Homo sapiens: one gene and its partners. The protein of the gene in region 2 purifies or fractionates together with the protein of the main gene of each other region. This does not show direct contact. Each region holds a gene or a part of one and is shown on either strand. Other genes may lie near its edges.

Region 1 (3,500 bases), on a different chromosome or scaffold from region 2:
TCATGATTGTTCCTTTTCAAGCTCCTTTGCTGCTTCCTCCTTTCCTCTCCAACTCCTCACCACTAAAGTATCCCAGGGCTCCGCTCTTGAACCATTCCCTCTTCCATCCACACTCACTCACTTGGTGAGCTCATCCTATCCAATGGCTTTAAATATCATCTGCATACAACCAACTCCCAAATTTATGTCTCAGGCCCAGATCTCATTCCTGAATTTCAGACTTAAATATCCAGTTGCCTATGCAGCATCTCCATTCAAATGTCCACAGATGATGCAAACCTAACATCAAACACTGAACTTCCTAGTCCCCCGAAAGCAGCTCTACCTGCAGCTTTCTTTGTCTCAGTTGACAGCAGCACCACCTGTCCAGTTGCTCAGGCCAAAAGCCTTAGAGTCTTCCTTGATCTTCTCTTTCTCTCACATACTATATCCAACCCTTTAGAAAATCCTTTTGGCTGTATCTAGACAATATATGCTATGGCCCTACATGATCTTGCTACCTCGTCACCTCTCCAACTTTCTCTCCTGCTATTCCCTCCCCTTCCTCTCTCCATTCCAGGTCCACTGTCCTCCTTTCTGTGCATCAAACACACTGGCCCCACCTCAGGGCCTTTGCACTGGCTCTTTCCTCTGTCTGATATGCTTTTCCCAGATATTCACAGACCTCACCTGTCATCTCTCTCAGGTTTTTGCTCAAATGTTATCTGCTTAACAAGGATTTCCATGACCACCCTATTTAAAATTGCCACCATTTCTCCCTTGCACTACTCTAGGTTTTTTTTTTTAAACTAGCAGTGATTATCCTCTAACAAATTATATAATTTACTTATTCATTATGCCTATGGCTTTTTGTCTCCCCCATTAGAATGTAAATTGCATGAGGGGAGGGACCTTCATCTGTTCTGTTCACTGATATATTTCAAATCCTTTTAACAGTGCCTGGTATATACTAAGTTTTCAATAAATATTATTGAAGTGAATAAATGAATCAAGGGAAGACAGCCAATCTTGTATATTGCAAAACAACCTAATGTCACTTTCTTCCCCCACCCCACCGCCCCCCTGAGACGAAGTCTTGCTCTGTCACCCAGGCTGGAGTACAGCGGTGTGATCTCAGCTCACTGCAATGTCCACCTCCCGGGTTCAAGCAATTATCCTTCCTCAGCCTCCCGAGTAGCTGGGATTATAGGCACCTGCCACCACCCTGGCTAATTTTTGTATTTTCTAATAGAGATGGGGTTTCACCATGTTGGCCAGGCTGGTCTCAAACTCCTGACCTCATAATCCAACTGCCTCGGCCTCCCAAAGTGCTGGGGTTATAGGTGTGAGCCACCGCGCCCAGCCTCTAATGTTGCTTTCTCATGTCCTGTATAAAATCCTTCCCCAAAGGTCCTCCTGAAATCTGCTTCTTGATTGGTTCTCCCATATATATAGACATATCTGTTGTAACGTTTTGACAAGTATTTAGCTTTTTTTTTAATACTCATCTCAGATGTTGGTTGAATGAATTAAATGAGATAACCTATGTAAATAGGACTTAGGTCCAGTAAGATAGGATGCAAATTAGAAAAACAGTGATGATTTCTGTGTGATCCCTCCTGTGCTGTGTTCTTGGTGACTAATGAGTGTCACAGTGCCGAACACACAATGAATTCTGACTTAATTGAATTGTCGAGAGGTGTGCTGGAATGCTGATTGATTTATATTAGGTACAATGTGAATTATAATTTAGGCTGTCACTGTGGATTGCTCTCAGTCAACAAAGACTATGTAATTGCAAAAGGCAAGGACAGGATGAACTCTAACTTAAGATAACACTTGACATTTGCAAAGAGGAAATGGGACTTTACACAGCCAATAGCAAATGTGTGGCTCTCATTACTCCCAAAGGAGGTACACGCTAAAAATATAAATGGGAGGAACATGACCATACCTACATTCCAGGCTGAGAGGCCATGTGAGGTTACAGCCCTTCCTCTTGAGCGTAACTTAGGGGAGGACACCCGGCTTACCCACCACCTGTTCCTCCGTGTCAGTGTCAGAAAGAGGCCTGGTCCAGCTGGCTCAGGTCCTGACTGAGCCCTCCTGGAGGTTCTCATGTGCCTGAGAGAGTTCCTGAAGAAGGTTTCTGGACTAGTTAGGGAGGGTGTGTGGACGGAGGTCAGGGTAGGAACATGATGGAAGTGGATCTGTGGCTGGTGACCCTGGCAGTGGGATCAGGACTGCCTCTCAGGCTCCATCATCACAGAGCCAAGTGTCAGGGTGGGGGCAGAAGCAGGCCCTGCCAGGTAGCACTGCCCGGTGTGTGTCTGTTCCGGGGTTGGCTCATATGTTGGCTTGAGGGACTCCCTGATAAAAGTAGTAGGAGACACATGGAATCCAGTGTTTCCAGGTCCAGCAAACTATCCAGGCAGGGGAGTCCTTAAAAGGGTGAGTGAGTGTGTGTGCGCGTGTGTGCATGCGTGTGCATGTGTGTGTGTGTATGTGTGTGTGTAAACTCTACTCTTCTGGTGACCTTCCCATTTTAATAAAGAACAGAAATGGTAGATCCAGGCAACTTGGCTTTGTCACTTTCTAGCTGAAGACCCTGGGCAAATTACTTGATGTTTTTGGGCCTTAGTTTCCTCAGTTGTTAAATGGAGTAATAATCATATTCAACCCATAGAGTTGTTATGAGAATCAATGAGGCAATATGATACGTAGTGCCTGCCACATGCTAGCCATTCAATAAGTGAGAGCTACAAAGAAAGTGACCAAAGCCTGAGGGATTGGCAGAGATAAGAAGAGTAGGGGCCAGGCAGCCAGGAACCTGCATTGGAGCATGTATGTGAATGCCCCATGGAGTCCTCTGGGACACCAGCTGCCCAGTGGCAAACCAGTTCAGCAATTCTTTTTTTTTTTTTTTTGAGACGGAGTCTCACTCTGTCGCCCAGGCTGGAGTGCAGTGGCGCAATCTCGGCTCACTGCAAGCTCCGCCTCCCGGGTTCACGCCATTCTCCTGCCTCAGCCTCCCAAGTAGTTGGGACTACAGGTGCCCGCCACCATGCCCGGCTAATTTTTTGTATTTTTAGTAGAGACGGGATTTCATCGTGTTAGCCAGGATGGTCTCGATCTCCTGACCTCAGGATCCACCCACCTCAGCCTCCCAAAGTGCTGGGATTACAGGCGTGAGCCACCGCGCCCGGCAAGCAATTCTTTACTGAACAGCTGCTGTGCTCCAGGTACTTTCCTTTAGAGTCTGGGAACAGAGAGGGAAAAGCCTAGATTTGTACTTCAGAGTTCACTGTGCAGAAGACAGAAAGGAGACCAGATTATTAGAACAGACAGCAAGATGTGCACCAGTTAGCATAAGTAAAAGGACTAGAACAGGCACACAGGAGTGCTAGGCTGTGGGGTGGAAGCTGGTGAGGCTGTGGGGTGGAAGCAGGCTTCACAGTGGAAGTGAGGTTCCGTGGTCTCATCTAGAAGGGGAAATGCATTTCAGAGGGGAGAGTAGGGGC
Region 2 (5,368 bases):
CCCAAATTAATATGGCGATACAATGCAATCATTGTCAAAAATCTCAGCTAGCTTCTTTGCAGAAACTGACACACTGACCCCAAAATTCATATGGAAACTAAAGGGACTAGGAGTAGATAAACAGCCTTGAAAAGGACAAAGTCAGAGGACTCACACTCCCGAATTCAAAACTTATTACAAAACTACGTAATGGCATCAGACTAAACATATCAATGGAATAGAACTGAGTCCAGAAATAAAGCCTTAAATTTATGGTCAAGAGGCTTTTTAAAATGTATTTATTTTTTCAGAGACAGGGTTTCGCTATGTTGCCCAGGCTGGACCCCAAGTCCTGAGCTCAAGCGACCTTCCCATCTCAGCTTCTCAGTAGCTGAGAATACAGGCACGTGCCACTGCGCCTGGCTATAATAGATTTTTTTACAAAGACAATTCAACGTGGAAAAAATAGTCTTTTCAACAAACAGTGTGGGACAACTGGATAAACACATGCAAAAGAATGATGACCTCACATCATATACATAAATTAATTCATAATGGATCAAAGACCTAAATGTAAGATATGAAACTACAAAACACTAAGAAGAATACACAGAAATAAATCTTCATACACTTTGATTAGGCATTAGTTTCTCTGACACCAAAAGCACATTAAAAAAAAATAGATGAACTCTTACAACTCAATAATAAAAAGACAACTCATTTTAAATATGGGAACAGGATGTGAGCAGACATTTCTCCAAAGAAGTATACCAAAGCCAAAGAACACATCATAAGACACTCAACATCACTAGTCACCAGGGAAATGCAAAATCAAAACAAAATACCAACTGGGCATGGTGGCTCACACCTGTAATCCCAGCACTTTGGGAGGCCAAGGCGGGCAGATGACTTGAGGTCAGGAGTTCAAGACCAGCCTGGCCAATATGGTACAACCTTGTCTCTACCAAAAATACAAAAATTAGCCAGGCGTGGTGGTGTGTACCCAGCTACTTGGGAGGCTGAGGAAGGAGAATAGCTTGAACCTGGGAAGCCGAGGTTGCAGTAAGCCAAGGTCGCGCCATTGCACTAGAGCCTGGGCATCACACCAAGACTCTGTCTCAAAAAAAAAAAAAAAAGTATCACTTCACACCTATTATAATAAAAAAATCAAGTAACAAGTTTGGTGAGGGGGTGAAGTCAGGACCAACATATACTGTTTAGTGAGATTTGAAAGTGGTGCAGCCACTTTTTAAAACAGTCTGGCAGTTCTTCAAAGTTACCTTATAACCCAGCAATTCTACTCCTAGGTATGACCCCCCAAAATTGAAAACACATGTCCACATAAAATCAGTACACAAACGTTTAGAGCGGCATTATTCATAATAGTTTAAAAGGTGGAAACAACTCAAATGTCCATCAACTGATGAACAAATAAACAAAATGTGGTCTATCCATATAATGGAATATTATTGGTAATAACAAAGACTGAAGTACTGATACATGCTACAACATGGAAGAACCCTGATAACATGCTAAGTGAAACAAGGTAGTCACAAAAGACTACAAATTGTATGATCCCATTTACATGAAATATCCAGAATAGGCAAACTCACAGAGGCAAAAGGAGATTAATGGTTGCCAGGGGCAGCAGTCAGGGAGAATGAAGCATGACTGCTAATGGGTACCAGCTCTCTTTTGGGAGTGATGTAAATGTTCTAAAATTAAATTATGATGATGGTTTCCCAACTCTTAATATGCTAAAAACCACAAAGTGTACATTTTAAATGGATGGATTTATGCTATGTAAATATATCAGTTAAGCTGTTATTTTAAGTTACTAAAAACAAGAATGAGTGTTGAGACATCACTACTGAGCTTACAGAAATAAAAAGGATTATGAGAATACTATGAACAATTGTATGCCAACAAATTAGGTAACCTAGATGAAATGGACAAATTCCTAGAGAGATATAAACTACTGAAACTGACATAAGAAGAAATGGAATATCTGAATAAACCTGTAACAAATAAATTGAATTAGTAAGTAAAGTCTTCTCAGAAAGAAAAGCACAGATCTAGATGATTTCACTGCTGAATTTTTGCAAATATGTAAAAAAGGATTAACACCAATCATCCACAAACTCTTCCAAAAATTAGAAGAAAAAAAGAATACTTCCAAATACATTCTATGAGATGAGTATGATCCTGATATCAAAACCAGTCAAAGACATCACAGTGAAACTAGAGATCAATATCCTTTATGAATATAGATGCAAAAATCCTCAACAAAACACCAGCAAGTTTATATGTAGTAACATATAGAAAGAACTATGCACCATGACAAAGTAGGATTTATCCCAGGAATACAATTAACATCTGAAAATCAGTGTAATGTGCCATATTAATATAGGACCAAAAGCACAAAAGATAACAGGAAGATGACATCACCAAGGTTTGCTTCCAAGATGGAATGTCAGGTTGTGCAGTGAGTTGTCCTCTCTTCCTTTCCACCCAGCAAGTTGCATGTAGTATTTGTAAATGTCTTGTCCTCATTACTACTACTACTACTACTTTTAGAAGTCTCTGCTCATGCCCAGGCCACTCTGGACATACAGAATTCTAAGTAATTCAGAGGCTTCTACACTTCATAAGACACACAACATGCACATAATATCCTCTATGTACAGAAGCCAGACTTTGAAGCAGAGGAAGTAAGTACCAAAGAAACATCCCCAAGGATCTCTAAGCCATCAACCCAAAACATATCTGATAAAGCTTAATGGCAAGAAGCAATAACATTAAGATATTTTAGGTAAGGTTATAGGGAATTTGCTAAAAATAGAGAAGCTGATCAATTTAAGCTATAGTATATAGAAAATCTCAAATTGTCCCTTTTAAAAATTAGCCACAGATCCTCAAAGTCATAAGGCAGCAATGAAACTGAAAAATCCAACAAACCTGGTCATAAGTTAAAGGAGGCAGATTCTCTCCACAGACTGTTTTCTGTTCTAAATAACATTTTTTTTGAAGTGTTTTGTCTCTGGCCAAAAAGAAGCCCATCCAAGCACTAGTAGTTGAGGATGTATGCTGCCCTGCCAAGAGTAATCCAATAAGCATCCCTGCTACTTCATCATCAGTCAAAGGACGCCCATCCCTAAGGAATGAACCAAAGACACAAATTTAACATTTTGGCAGATACATTTCATGCCTCAACCTTTAAATAAAGTGTCATAATGAATACATTTTTCAGGTATAGTGGTCTCTTATATTTGACTATCACAAGTCAAGAGTTTTTTTTCTCTTAGGGAAGAGACAGACCAGCACAAAACGATTTTGATTACAAAAGACTCCATTACAGTTCATTAGCAAACTTTTACCATACCCAGTCACTGGGATTACAGTAAGACACAGGATGCCAATAGTTTATGTCTCAACAATTTAAAGAGTCCAAAGATCACAGCTACCAACTTATTTTGCCAGCATCACTGTTTTTTAACTGGAAATACTATTTAACTGTGTTTTAATGTGTAATTTCCTGCTTCAGCTTAATATGTTATCTGAATAGCTCTTACTTGTATGTAGCATCTAGTAAAGTTTGGAGAATGTCATCAATTTTTTCTTGAGACTGTCTGCGTTTCTGGATTGCCTTATAGAAAATATCCTTGATTTCCCGATGAGCTCTGTCCCTGCGTCTGTAATTAAAAGATAAAGATGATTTTCTTAAATAAAGAAATAACCTTCTAGGATCAAATTCATTTTGAGAACCAGGACCGAGCATAAAGCATCTTATTTAACCAACTTTAATGACTCTAAAATAATTGACAAAAAAATCAGAACCAGGAACATACTGGAAGTCATGAAAATCTTACATTGTTAAAAATGTCCATAGTCCCTAAGGGCAAGAACTGTGCTTTATTTAACATATATATCCCAGATTCTTAACACATTGCCTGTGTTCAAACTAAAGGCCTAAAACAAGCAAGAAATTCCTTTAGAAGTATTTTCCAGTTCAACAGAAAGTAGGATACTCTTTTAAATTAACATAAAATTCCAATTTTAATACCAAATCAAGTCTTAAAGCAGAAGAGTCACTCTGGTTCTTCCATGGAATCTGGTTCTACTTTTCACTTTCTAATACAATAGTTTTTTGTAGGGGGTGAAAATACTAGCAGATTCAGAAAACAAGCTTCAACTCCTAAACTTTACCTTTAAATAGTATGTTCACTATGTAGCAGGTACCATGTTAAGTGTTTTACATGAATTACTCACTTTTATCTTCCTGTGAGGTACATACTATTAACCTCAAGTTATAGCTAGCTGCATAAGATCACACAGAAAGCAAACATTGGAGCTGGAATTTAAAACTAGGCAGTCTGACTCCCAAGCCCCCTCTTAAATCAAGCCTTCTAAAAAAAACTCCTACTCTGTTTCATTTACAAGACTGTTAATCTGTTATTGAGGATCAACTGAAACCATGTGTACAGAAGAGAAGATGTTGGGGCTTAACTGTATGAATACAGTCGAACCAGGAAAACATAGGCCTGTTTAAGAAAGTGAATTGAATAATCTGGTTAAATTAGTTGGTATGAGTAGAAGAAAGAAAGACTGGGCCAGAATGTGAAGGGCCTAACATAGCAAGCTCTGACTTCATCCAAGAGACAGAGCAGGTAGAAACAGGCAGGTAGAAATGTACATTTATGGGCCAGGTGCAGTGGCTCACGCCTGTAATCCCAGCACTATGGGAGGCCGAGGCGGGCGGATCACAAGGTCGGGAGATCAAGACCATCCTGGCTAACACGGTGAAACCCCATCTCTACTAAAAGTACAAAACAATTAGCCAGGCTTGGTGGCGGGTGCCTGTAGTCCCAGCTACTCGGGAGGCTGAGGCAGGAGAATGGCGTGAACCTGGGAAGCAGAGCTTGCAGTGAGCCGAGCTCATGCCACTGCACTCCAGCCTGGGCGAGAGAGCAAGACTCCATCACCAAAAAAAAAAAAAAAAAAAAGAAATGCACATTTATGGAGAACCCACTATGAGTCCAGGGCTGTGCTGGGTGTTCTAATATAAGATATATGAAAACATTTTGAAACTGCAAAGCTCCTTGCAAATATAAGGTATGATGAGTTCCAGAGAACTTTAGGGAATCTCTCCTGGCTCTTCCTTTTACTCCCACCCCTCTTCCAATCTGTAACTAGATAGAGGGGGCAGAAATAGAAGAAAAGGGACTAGCAATCTATCTCCTCCCCATCTGTCACCTAAACACCAATAAATCAACAAAAGTACAGAAAGCCTACTAATATGCAAAACACTAAGCACTAAGCTATAGATCAAGTCCTAAGAGCAATATTTCTTTATATCAGAGGCAGTCCCTGTCCTTAAGAAACAGAAAAT
Region 3 (3,500 bases), on a different chromosome or scaffold from region 2:
AAAAGCCATAAGGATTACAGAAAAGGTGTATGCATATATATACATATATATTTTTTAAACCAAGGCCAGAAATACTATTACTAGTATGATATTGAAGGAGGTAGTTGCAAGTGAAATAAAATGAAGTGGTATTTAGTACACATCTGGAACTTGTTCGCCTGAGAGGTTGTACTGTCTGAAAGTATAAATAGGATCAACAAAAGCTCAGGTAAATCCATGGATGACAGATATGCAGCTGGGTATAAAGGGCAAGTTCAGGACATGCTCTTGGCTTTAGTGTAAGGAAAGGGTCACTATCAAAGTTTCCACCCAGCACTTTTGTTGTCACCGGAGGAGGCAAAGCATTAAGTGGATTAAGCACAAACTTGCCCTTATGTGGCATTTCATAAGCTTCTATGTTCCCCCTCAATATGGACTAGAAACAATGTGGGCTTAAAATTGAAAATATTCAGTTTTCCTTGCTATTATAAAGTACTTTTTAATATCTATGAAAACTTGTCACTTTCATAAAATAGACAAGTATAAAAACTCATAGGGGCTTTTCATAACAATGAATATCATTTTAGAAATTGGAGACATTTCGATATAGCTAATTACTTATCTCTTTAAGAATTAAAAATATTTTGTAAAGTGATACTTGTAAATTATTTTCATGATGTCTTTTTATTACAAAGTTGTTTTCAGGATACTAACATTTGCTTTGGTTTGAGAAAGTTGGTTTTGTCGTGGTAACGGCTTTACGTGGAGTATCTGTTTAACATCCTTAATCCAATGATACTTAAATTCTGTAAACAATTAACTTCAGGTGCCTTTCACTTATAAATTACATCCAGCAAGGGTTGACAGAAAGATTTTTGTCATTAATGTCTTTCTTCTCTTTTCAGTAAGTCCATTTGTCACAATTATACAGTAGAATTTGTTGATATCGCACCAAAGAAGAATTTTGTTTTGGCTTTTCTCTACCATTTTATTTAACCAGTAGATATCATTATGAAACAACACTGCATGTATTCTTAAATCATTTGTCGGGTGCTTAAATATGTCTCGTATACTATGATAGATTCTGGAGTTTCAAGAACCTCACGTAGAATGTGGTTTCTGCCTTCAAGTTCAAGCAAGCAATGTGGACTCACAACAGAAAATTCTGTACCATAGTTAAAGCCACAAATAGAGATATGCCCAGGTTATTACGGAGGCAGAGATATGAGGCCATCAACCCACTGAGGAAAAAAAAATGCAGAAAGGAATGTGTCAGGGAAAAGTGCCAAGAAGGGTAAAGCCTGACCTGAGGTTTATACAAAATGTATAAAAGAGGATGGAGGATATATGGGGCACTGTATGCAGGCAGAGAGAAGAGCAGTCCAAGATATCTTAAATATCCATGGCGTATATGGATAAAGGCAAAATATACCATTAACCCTGGAAAAGGTAATAATAGGCCAGATTATGTGATAGAGCACAGGCTTCCTTTCAGGAAATTAGAATCCACTGATCCTTGCTCAAGCAGACGTAGAGCCTATTCATACTTATATGTTAGGTGTAACCCTTTGATGGTAGCATGGAAGATAGATTTTAAAGGCAAGTCTGGAGCCAGCGACCAGTATATAGGATGAACACCCAGGAAAGAGATGCAGACCTGCATCAATGTAGTCATAGCAGAGGTAGTAAGGGAAGGACAACCAAAATATTTTAAAGTCAGATTAGCAGCTCTTGGTAACTGATTGGACATGGAATCCATAGTGAGATTAAATTCTATAGAGAATCCTGGTTTGTTGCCTTGGGTGACTAGTTGAATTGTGGCAGCTACTCAATGTAGCAACCCTTGGATGTTGAAATTTTTAGGAATAAACTTGATTTATTTGCATTTGGACTCCAGAGTTATGGAACATAACTGGCATATATTAAGCATCAGCTATCAGCTATGGAGTTCGATTCAGTCATCTAAATTTCTAAGAAAGGAGCTATTTACCCTCATTTATGTCATTAGCTTCTGATATAAATGATTAAGATACGATGTAAATGAAATAACATTTATTTCTAACCAGAGAAAATAGGCAATAGCTTTTGGTGTTTATGGGCAACAGCTGTTGGTGTTTAGTGCCAAGTGAAATCAGTCTTTCAATAAATATTTATGGAGCATCTTTATGCCACAGGCACCAAGTATAAAGTATGAATAAGCTGTCATAATTGCTCTGTGGTTGCATGGGAAGATAGACACATAAACAAGATAATTATATAACCTTGTGGTAAGTTCAGAGGAAAACATGAAAACACTAAGGAATGGGACCTAACAGTTTGACCTGGGGGATAGGCAGGGAGATGCCAGACGGCTTATTTTTAGGATGGTGGTGTCTTACTTTCCAGGCCAAATGGAATACGAGGCATAAGGCCATTTCACATGGTAGTGAAAACCTGAGCAAGGAGTAGAAGTGAGGAATAAAATGGTACAGAACTGTAGACTAGAAGCAAGTTTAATGCAGCCGGAGCATTAATGTAAGTAGAATGAGGAAAAAGGAGGAATAGGAGCAGCAGAGAGTAAAAAAATTCATTTTACAATACAGATGATTATTTTACATCTCAGAAATTCTAAATGTCTAATCATCTGTGATTTTTATTTTTTTCCTAAATAAATCGGTTCTATAGACTAACAGGTTGTGTTAACAATCATAGGGCAAAACAAGGTGCTGAATTTGGTGGATGTGGTTACATAGCACGTGACTTTTCCGGTACAACTTGCAAAGAGACTATTCTTGCCATCCAGTGTCTCATATGCTAAGTGTTATGAAGCTCCCCTCTTTCACTGATCATTTAAAAAGTGCCCTGGGAGTTCTTCCAGAAGCTACAGTTGTCACTGAGACAATCAAGATCTCCATTTTCTCCAAGAAAAACATCCATACAAAAAACAAAACTGCAAAACTCAACAATCGTAACAGCAAAGACACAGGCTCCAACTCACAAAGTGTATAAAATCAAATCAGATAATACATGAAAAAGTTCTTTAGAGGTCATGAAGCACTATAAAAATGTGAAATGGTAGCATTATTGGTGATTGAGCTATAGCAATGAGTTACTTTATAAAGACCCCAAAAGAATTTTTATTGCATTTTCCCACTGTGCATTTTAGCAAATAGCAAAAGTGTAGTAAAACTTTGACCTCAAAATTGCTTCCCACATCTTAGAAGCTTTGCAATTTGGAGCTGCAAGGAATGCATGAATATTAAAATACGTTAAAGTAACTTACTGTATTGAGCCCCAGGCCATTAAGCATATATATCAAATCCTCAGTGGCTACATTCCCAGAAGCACCTTTTGCATAAGGGCAGCCACCTAATCCGGATACTGCGGAGTCCACCACATTAATTCCCATCTGGAAAACAAACCAAACCACCTAAAGCTTGTGTGTTTATGGCATGTAAATTGTTGCATTTCTATTTAACCTATGGTAAACTGCAAATAAGCAAAATCTGAACTGGTTATTCAAATATATTCACTTACCCAGT
Region 4 (3,500 bases), on a different chromosome or scaffold from region 2:
GCTACCATTGACTTTCTTAACAGAATTAGAAAAAAAAATACTTTAAATTTCATATGGAAACAAAAAAGAGCCTATATAGCCAGACAATCCTAAGCTAAAAGAACACAGTTGGAGGCATCAAACTGCCTGGCTTCAAACTATACTACAAGGCTACAGTAACCAAAACAGCAAGGTACTGGTACCAAAACAGATATATAGACCAATGGAACAGAACAGAAGCCTCAGAAATAACACCACACATCTACAACCATCTGATCTTTGACAAACCTGACAAAAACAAGCAATGAAGAAAGGATTCCCTATTTAATAAATGGTGTTGGGAAAACTGGCTAGCCATATGCAGAAAACTGAAACTGGACCCCCTCCTTACACCTTATACAAAAATCAAATAAAGATGGATTAAACACTTAAACGTAAGACCCAAAACCATAAAAACCCTAGAATAAAACCTAGGCAATACCATTTAGGACACAGGCATGGGCAAAGACTTCACGACTAAAACACCAAAAGCAATGGCAACAAAGCCAAAATTGACAAATGGGATCTAGTTAAACTAAAGAGCTTCTGCACAGCAAAAGAAACTATCATCAGAGTGAACAGGCAACCTACAGCATGGGAGAAAATTTCTGCAATCTATCCATCTGAGAAAGGGCTAATATCCAGAATCTACAAGGAAGTTAAACAAATTTACAAGAAAAAAACAAACAACCCCATCAAAAAGTGGGCGAAGGATACAAACAGATCCTTCTCAAAAGAAGACATTTATGCAGCCAACAAACATATGAAAAAAAGCTCATCATCACGGGTCATTAGAGAAATGCAAATCAAAACCACAATGAGATACCATTTCATGCTAGTTAGAATGGTGATCATTAAAAAGTCAGGAAACAACAGGTGCTGGAGAGGATGTGGAGAAACAGGAACACTTTTACACTGTTGGTGGGAGTGTAAATTAGTTCCACCATTGTGGAAGACAGTGTGGTGATTCCTTAAGGATCTAGAACCAGAAATACCATTTGACCCAGCAATCCCATTACTGGGTATATACCCAAAGAATTATAAATCATTCTGCTATAAAGACACATGCACACGTTTGTGTATTGCAGCACTATACACAATAGCAGAGACTTGGAACCAACCGAAATGCCCATCAGTGATAGACTGGAAATACTATCACCATGAAATACTAGGCAGCCATAAAAAAGGATGAGTTCATGTCCTTTTCAGGAACATGGATGAAGCTGGAAACCATCATTTTCAGCAAACTAACACAGGAACAGAAAACCAAACACTGCATGTTCTTACTCATAAGTGGGAGTTGAACAATGAGAACACATAGACACAGGGGAGGGGAATATCACAAACCAGGACCTGCTGGGGAGTGGGGGACTGGGGGAGGGATAGCATTAGGAGAAATACCTAATGTAGATGATGGATTGAGGGTGCAGCAAACCACCATGGCACATGTATACCTATGTAACAAACCCACATGTTCTGCACATGTATCCCAGAACTTAAAGTATAATTAAAAAAAAACAAACAACAACAACAACAAAAACACTGAAAACCAATAAGCTAAGCATTCAGAAACTTGGGGGGAAAAACAATAAATCCAAACACATGAAAAGGAAGGAAATAGTCAAGAGCAGAAATCAACAAAATAGACAACAATGACAAATTAACAAAATATAAGCTAGTTCTTTGAAAAAATTAATAAAACAACCAAACTTCTAACTGGATACTAATGGAGGTTAGTAGGGTACCAATTATTACTCTAAAAATTGATAAAGAGTAAGCATTTATCCTACTTTTCCAATTTGAACTATCTATCAGAATAACTAAATAGACCTAACGGATGGAGTAAAGCAATTCTACAAAAAAGAATCAAACTTAAAAATACAGAAGAAATGAGAGAATTCGAGAATAACCATGTTGTAACCCATAATTAAGTAACTGATTCAAGAAATAAATAAATGGTAAAACCAAAGAGTAAGTTTGTTGGACACAGTATCGGTGGACATTAACTGAACCCATTAAAAGTGAAGCAATCCTATCTTACATATCCACTGATGTGATGCAATGGAATGTACATGGCATCACTAAAGTCTTCTTGCACCACTCCCCGCAACAGGAAAAAAAAAAAAAAAAAACTAAATCTAATTGAGCCTATAGATCAAACACTGTGACTACCAAAAATACAAATGTGAGGATTAAAATACAAGACACTACAAGGAAACCACAACAAAATCCAGAATGTGAACAAATGATCCAGTTTCCTCAACAAGTCAATGGCAAGGAGAAAAAAATGGTGAGGAGGGATCTTCCAGATCAGCAGTTGACAAATGATGGCCTGTGGACAAAAGTATACCTGTTTTTGTATGCCCCTCATACTAAGAAAGGTTTTACATTTTTAAAGGGTTTTTTAGAAAGAAGAATAAGCAACAGAGACTTAGCATGGTATACAAAGCCTAAAATATTTACTACCTAACACTTTACAGAAAAAAATGTGTCAACCCTTATTCTAGATTACAAGACATTTAGAAAAGCTTGAGATGTAGGAACCAAATAGGAGTACAACTTGTTTAGATACCAATTAGAACAACTGCACTATATATTTTTACCCAATAGGGAAAATTTTTATTATGGAGTAGTTATTAGATGATATTAACCAATTATTGTTAATTTTGTAATATTATAGTTTTGTATGGAAGTGATTTTTTTTTTATTTCTATCTTTTATAGAGACATGGTCTTGCACTGTCACCCAGGCTGGAGTGTCGGGGCACAATCATATTTCACTGTAGCCTTGAACTCTTGGCTCCAGGAATCCTCCCACCTCAGCCTCCCGAGTTAGCTAGGACCATAGGCTCGCTACTTTTTTTTCTTTTTTTGGTACAGACAGGGTCTTTCTGGCCAGGTGCATAATTTCAGCAATTTGGGAGGCCGAGGTGGGCAGATCACTTGAGGTCAGGAGTTTGAGACCAGCCTGGCCAACATGGCAAAACCCCATGTTGGGAGTCTCCACTAAAAACACAAAAATTAGCCAGGCATGATGGTGGATGCCTGTAATCCCAGCTACCTGGGAGGATGAGGCACAAGAATTCCTTGAACTGAAGAAGTGGAGATTGCAATGAGCCAAGATCACGCCACTGCACTCCAGCCTAGGTGACAAAGTGAGACTCCATCTCAAAAAAAAGAAAGAGAGAGAGACAGTGTTTTTCTATGTTGCCCAGGTTCATCTCCAACTCCTGGCCTCAAGTGATCCTCCCACCTCCACCTCCCAGAGAGCAAGAATTACAGGCATGGGCCACCTCACCCACTCTATAAGACATTTCTTAAAAAGATAAGGCAAAAAAAAAAATATGGCAAAATATGGATAGTTGTTAAAGTTGAGTAATGGGTGCTTGCAAGTTTTTTACACTCTCTTATGTATGCTTGGAAATTTTCAATATCAAAAGTTAATTAAAAAGACAAACCTCTAGCAAGACAGATCAAGGATAC

Evidence for each region.
Region 1: the proteins of CYP51A1 (region 2) and POPDC2 purify together in Homo sapiens (co-immunoprecipitation; one large-scale study listed by IntAct). This does not show direct contact.
Region 3: the proteins of CYP51A1 (region 2) and HMGCLL1 fractionate together in Homo sapiens (co-fractionation; one large-scale study listed by BioGRID). This does not show direct contact.
Region 4: the proteins of CYP51A1 (region 2) and SNX14 purify together in Homo sapiens (affinity purification with mass spectrometry; one large-scale study listed by BioGRID and IntAct). This does not show direct contact.

The regions. Positions count from the first base shown.
Region 1 is NC_000003.12:119,650,590-119,654,089, forward strand, and holds part of POPDC2 (popeye domain-containing protein 2), read right to left. Parts: intron 1-3,500. UniProt on the Homo sapiens protein: Important for the maintenance of cardiac function.
Region 2 is NC_000007.14:92,120,183-92,125,550, forward strand, and holds part of CYP51A1 (lanosterol 14-alpha demethylase), read right to left. Parts: intron 3,672-5,368; coding exon 3,552-3,671; intron 3,134-3,551; coding exon 2,938-3,133; intron 1-2,937. UniProt on the Homo sapiens protein: Sterol 14alpha-demethylase that plays a critical role in the cholesterol biosynthesis pathway, being cholesterol the major sterol component in mammalian membranes as well as a precursor for bile acid and steroid hormone synthesis.
Region 3 is NC_000006.12:55,436,193-55,439,692, forward strand, and holds part of HMGCLL1 (3-hydroxymethyl-3-methylglutaryl-CoA lyase, cytoplasmic), read right to left. Parts: intron 3,368-3,500; coding exon 3,242-3,367; intron 1-3,241. UniProt on the Homo sapiens protein: Non-mitochondrial 3-hydroxy-3-methylglutaryl-CoA lyase that catalyzes a cation-dependent cleavage of (S)-3-hydroxy-3-methylglutaryl-CoA into acetyl-CoA and acetoacetate, a key step in ketogenesis, the products of which support energy production in nonhepatic animal tissues.
Region 4 is NC_000006.12:85,583,859-85,587,358, forward strand, and holds part of SNX14 (sorting nexin-14), read right to left. Parts: intron 1-3,500. UniProt on the Homo sapiens protein: Plays a role in maintaining normal neuronal excitability and synaptic transmission. May be involved in several stages of intracellular trafficking. Required for autophagosome clearance, possibly by mediating the fusion of lysosomes with autophagosomes.